2 separate regions of the Homo sapiens genome follow, and region 2 is linked to region 1. The links come from fine-mapping of genetic effects on gene expression. Tissue or cell type: whole blood. Region 1 holds a variant in brackets; the other region holds the start of a gene. All regions are shown on one strand. Distances are between the middles of the regions.

Region 1 (2,838 bases):
GCAGAGTTCATCGTTCTCTGTTTGTGAAAAATCTCTCACCAGTAAGCACCTGTTTCTGACCAGTCTTGCTCCTTAGCAAGGAGAGTCTGAAACCTGTGCTTCCTGAATGTTTGTTTATTTATTTATTTTTGTTTTTGTTTTTTATTTTTTAGACAGAGTCTCGCTCTGTTGCCCAGGCTGGAGTGCAGTGACGTGATCTCGGCTCACTGCAACCTCCGTCTCCTGGGTTCATGCAATTCTCCTGCCTCAGCCTCCTGAGTAGCTGGGATTACAGGCGTGCGCCACCACACCTGGCTAATTTTTGTATTTTTAGTAGAGATAGGGTTTCACCATGTTGGTCAGGCTGGTCTCGAACTCCTGACCTCAAGATCCACCCGCCTCAACCTCCCAAAGAGCTGGGATTACAGGCATCAGCCACCGCTCCTGGCCTTTGGTTTTGTTTTGTTTTTGCTTCCTGAATGTTTACACCTGAGAACATTAAGGAGCAAAACACTCCTGGGCTGGCTGGGTGCAGTGGCTCATGCCTGAAATCCCAGCACTTTGGGAGGCCAAGGAGGAAGGATCACTTGAGCCCAGGAGTTCGAGACCAGCCTGGGCAACGAAGTGAGATCCTGTCTCTAAAAAAAAAAAAAAAAAAAAAAAACACTTGGCTGGGCACCGTGGCTCATGCCTGTAATCCCAGCACTTTAGGAGGCCAAGGCAGGTGGATCACTTGTGGTCAGGAGTTCGAGACCAGCTCTGGCCAACATGGAGAAACCCTGTCTCTACTAAAAATACAAAAATTAGCCCAGCTTGGTGGCAGCTGCATGTAATCCCAGCTACTTGGGAGGCTGAGGCAGGAGAATCGCTTGAACCCAGGAGGCGGAGGTTGCAGCGAGCTGAGCAGTGAGCCAGCCTGGGCAACAGACTGAGACTCCGTCTCAAAAAACAAAAACAAAACAAAAAATCAACACTCTTGAGCTGACCACTACTGCCGATCATCTTCCAGACCCATTTCCTGTGGTCTTGGTCTCCCACTAGGCTGGCAAATAACCATCAGCCACAGCCATGCCCTGGAGGTGGGGCCATCTGGAACCAAGACTGATCCCTTCTGGACTCAGGACTGACTTTGTAATTTGTGAGGCCCAGTGCAAAATAAAAATATGGGGCCCCTTCTTGGAAAATGATTAAGAATTTCAAGACAGTGACAGCTAGGGCCAAATGTGGGGCCTTTGTGAGGATGGGCTCTGTGTGACTGTGGAGGCTGCACATCCATGAAGCTGCCCTGCTGGTGGCAGAGACTTTTCCAGCCCTCCAGGCCCAGTTTCCCTAGAATTCCCCGTGCCCCATGTCGGCGCCTCTCCGCTGTTCTCCCTTTTCCTTCCCCAGTGCCCTCTTACATCCTCTTTTCTGCAAAGTGAGCCAGGAATCTTGGCTGGCGTGGCCTCCCCTTGATGTCTTCAGGGCTATTGGGTTTCCCTTGACATTCATCTGGGGGACTCTGTCTCTTGCTCCGGCATCATTTTGTCCCTCTACTGCCATGGCTGGCTGCACGTGAGGAACCTGGACCACATGGGGCTAGATTGCAAATTGGTACCCCGTGTTTTACCCGTGTTTCTCACACTGGGCCAGCCCACTTCTCCAGCCTCATGCTCTCATGTGCTGAGCAACAATCTCAAGGCATTCTGGGCCCTGACATGACTACGAGTTTTTGAATAGTGTGGCAGAG[A/G]CAGGCTATATATTCGCTAATTTCATTGTACACAACTCCTGGCCCACTGGAAGACTACATTTCCCAGTGGCCTTTGCATCCAGGTGAGACCATGTGACCTGTAACAGACAATGAAATGTGAGGGAAAATGAAGTACAGGACTCCTAGGCCATGTCCCTCTGCCATGTTTGCTCCCCTGACCTGCCTGTTTGTGACACAGATGGTGGAATGACAAGATGGAAGCAATCCCTTCTTACTTTGTAGTCTCCCTTAGAGGCTACACAATGCCCTTCTCCCAGCCCAAGGGCTCAGGGGATGTATCTAGGGGGATTGGCTTTCTCCCCATTTTCCAAGGCGGGTCCTTGCCACCAGCCTCCGTGTTTTCAGGAAGCTCCGTGCAGCCATGGACATGACATTGGCCACAGAGGCAAAGTCATGGTGGGGGCTGGATGTGGTGGCTCACACCTGTAATCCCAGCACTTTGGGAGGCCGAGGCAGGTGGATCACTTGAGGCCAGGAGTTCGAGACCAGCCTGGCCAACATGGTGAAACACCATTTCTACTAAAAATACAAAAATTAGCTGGGCGTGGTGGCACATGCCTGTAATCCCAGCTATTCGGGAGGCTGAGGCAGGAGAATCACCTGAACCCAGGAGGTGGAGGTTGCAGTGAGCTGAGATCGTGCCATTGCACTCCAGCCTGGGCAACAAGAGCGAGACTCCATCTCAAACCACAACGAAAAACAAAGTCATGGTGGGGCCTTGGACACGAATTCTGCTCTCTGGGCCTCGGCTCCCCCACTGGAAAGAAGGCAATCCCCCAGCCTCTCATGATGGAATTCTGGTCCAGGGGACAGCTCTCAGCTGTCTCTGGCTACATCCAAGGGAAGACCTGACTGTAATCTTTGCGTGGAGCCCCCACAGGTCGGCTCCTCTGACTTGGCATAGTTTGTAGAAGCCTGAAGATGATAACCCTCTGGAAAGAGTTTTCCAATATGAATATGTGGGGATGGGCAGGTGTGGCTTCAAAGTTGTAAAAAGGGTTCAGTCCATCTTTACCCCCACTTACCAGCAGGATGACCTTGGTCTAGGAACACCTGTCTGAAGAAGAGATGTTATCCACCCAGGATTAAGTGATGGCAGCACAGGCTTT
Region 2 (2,500 bases), 48 kb before region 1:
AAAAGAATTAAAGAATTGAGGCCGTAGGGGGTGGGGGCCGCGCAGGCCTTTGAATGGGATGAAAAGGCCTGGAGAGGCCTGGCTACTCCACATTGTCTGCCTTGGACAACGGCGGCTGGCCTTTAGGAGGGGACCCTCGCTGGGGCTGCAGCCAGGACAGAGGCCAGGACAGGTTCAAACACTGTCATCAAGGATAGAAGGGCAGATTTGCAACCTAGCTCTTCAGTGAATAGCCCATGAGGCTAAAAGATGATGCCAATTCCCTAGGGTCTCAGTTTGCTTAACCGTTGAATGGGGACAGTTTTCCCTACCTCATTCGGTCCTTCAAGGATTGATGAGGACACTATATATAATAATGGGCCCCACCATGTCAGGTTCTGGGAGCTCCTCCGTAAAGGCCAGCAGGGAGGAGGTTCCCCGCCGCTAGGAGAGCAGAAGGAAGACTGTGCTCCCTCTTTTCTCTGTCCAAAATGCCAGGTCCCTGGGGTATCTCCGACACTGACCCACTGGGCTGTGAGACTCCACCCCAGTCCCTCCTCCGAGGGAGATAAATAGCCTGGGTACAAAACAAACAAACAAAAAACAAAACAAAGCAAAAAAACAGGAACAGGGAAAAGGGGAGAGAGGGTCCGAGAAGAGTCGGCTAGGGGGTGTCATAGGCCTTTCCCAAGTGCAGGGGGAGGGGCCCTAGGGACAGGGGAACAGAAGGGCCAGGGCTTCGCCCTCGTTGCGCCCCTTCCCCCTCCTCTCGAGCTCCTGGGTTGAAAGGGAGGGAGTAGGGGAGGCAGCCAGCTCCGACACATGGAGTAGGGGACCCCGCACTCGCGGGAGCCTCAGCCGGACCGCGGGATGGCCGTGTCCCTGCCCTCACCCGGGCTGGGGACTGGATCGCCCTCCAATCCCAGCCCTTCCTGGAGGTGGGGGCGTGTGCGCGCCGGGACCCTCGGCCAGCGGGGTGCAAAGGCGCCGGGAGCTCTTACCTGCGTCCGGAGAACGGAGCTGCCCCGATGCTCCACGCAGCGCCGCCTCCCGGGAGCAGGAGCCCGAGGCAGAGCAGCGCCCAAGCCCGCGGGCCGCCCATGCTGCACCAGGCGCCCTCCGCGCGCGGCCCCTCGCGGTCGCCGCCCCCAGCCTGTCCTCCCCGCCTGCCTGCCCGCGCCGCCAGCCGCCCCGGACGCGCGGAGCCCGGTTTCCAGCTCCGCGGCCGGAGGGCGGGCAGGAGGCGGGCGGGCGGGGGCGGGGGCGCGCGCTCCCGGCCTCGCCCGGCCCCTCTGCGCTGCCCCCCGCCCCCTGCGCCGCCGCTGCCAACCCGGAAGGAGCCCGGAGGGGCCCGGGCGGCCAGGGCGCCCCCGCCAGGAGGCCCGCCAGGTGTCCACCTGAGCCCCACGCCCTGCGCCGCGGGGCCCTTTTGGGGGCGGGGTGCCAGCTCCGAGGTGTCCTCCCACGGGCTGTAGACTGGGAAACTGAGGCCCGGGCCACGGTCCCAGACGCAGCCGGGACCCGAACCCACCTCACCTGAGCGAATGATATCCGGGACTCATCCTTTTTCGACACCTTTGCGGGATCCAGCCCTCCAAGGAAAGCTTCCTGAGCAGTGCGCGCCACGTGTATTGGGCACCTCACCGCGGCCACTTCACATCCTATCTCAGGTGACTCTTCAAGCCACTCTGCTCGAACTGGGCACAATATCCCCATTTTACAGAAGAGAAAACTGAGGCCCAGGCACTCGCAGTCTCCCTAGGAGGAGATCTGGGCTGACCCCATAAGTGCAGAGTCTGTTCTTATTCTCATTTTACAGGTGGAGAAACTAAGCCACAGAAAGGAGCTGTCATTTACCTAAAGCACCGTGGCAGGGGTTTGGCAGAGCCAGGATTTGTACCCAGATCGCCTGACTTCGGAGAGTAACAGCTCTTAACCACAGCACTTCGGTCTATGCCTTGATTTCACCATATGTAACAAGGTAAGAATTGGTGTTGGGTGGTTTCATCTGGGGTACATGGATGGGCTTCTGGAGGAATGGCTCTACATCCCACAAAGGTATATGTAAGCGTAGTGTGTGTGTGCAGGGGTGCATGTGTGTGTCGTATGTGTGTATGATGGATGTGTGTGCATGCTTGATGTGGATTTATGTGCATGTGTGTTATGTGTGTGTCTGTGATAGGAGTGTGTGTTTATAGGGAGAGACCAGAGCTCTCATCAGAGGGGACCCAGACCCCCAATCTCCCAGGGCAGTCTCTAACCCCGCCTTCTGCCTGGATCGATGGGCAGTAGTTAGGCCTGGGCTGGGGAAGCCCTTGCCCAGCTTGGCTACTTCCTGTTATGGCTTGTCCAGACCCACGGTCCCTTCTAGAAACACTCCCCAGAAAGGATCTGCCAGTCACTGGATTGCCCCTCCTGGACTCACCAGGGGCAGGCAGCATAGGCCACCATAGGCAGGCAGGCAGGCAGGACGGGGGATCCATCACCAGTGTGTCCACATAGAGAAAGCTGTTGCCCTGTC

The links. PIP is the estimated chance that this variant, and not a neighbour inherited with it, causes the effect.
Region 2: EMID1 starts here. The variant in region 1 is fine-mapped to the expression of EMID1 in whole blood (INTERVAL, PIP 0.95).

The regions. Positions count from the first base shown.
Region 1 is chr22:29,156,930-29,159,767 of GRCh38, reverse strand. It overlaps a transcript of KREMEN1 not described here. Among named protein-coding and RNA genes, the nearest start is that of EMID1, 48 kb to the left of the region's middle. The variant A/G (reference allele first, on the strand shown) is at 1,709.
Region 2 is chr22:29,204,620-29,207,119 of GRCh38, reverse strand. EMID1 (EMI domain containing 1) reads right to left here and starts at 1,224. Exons shown (of 15, transcript NM_133455.4): 1 at 981-1,224. The coding sequence starts at 1,081. It overlaps LOC101929638 (a long non-coding RNA gene), which reads left to right and starts at 1,288. Exons shown (of 5, transcript XR_938134.3): 1 at 1,288-1,649; 2 at 1,799-1,960. RefSeq lists silencers at 790-849, 870-1,029, 1,040-1,129.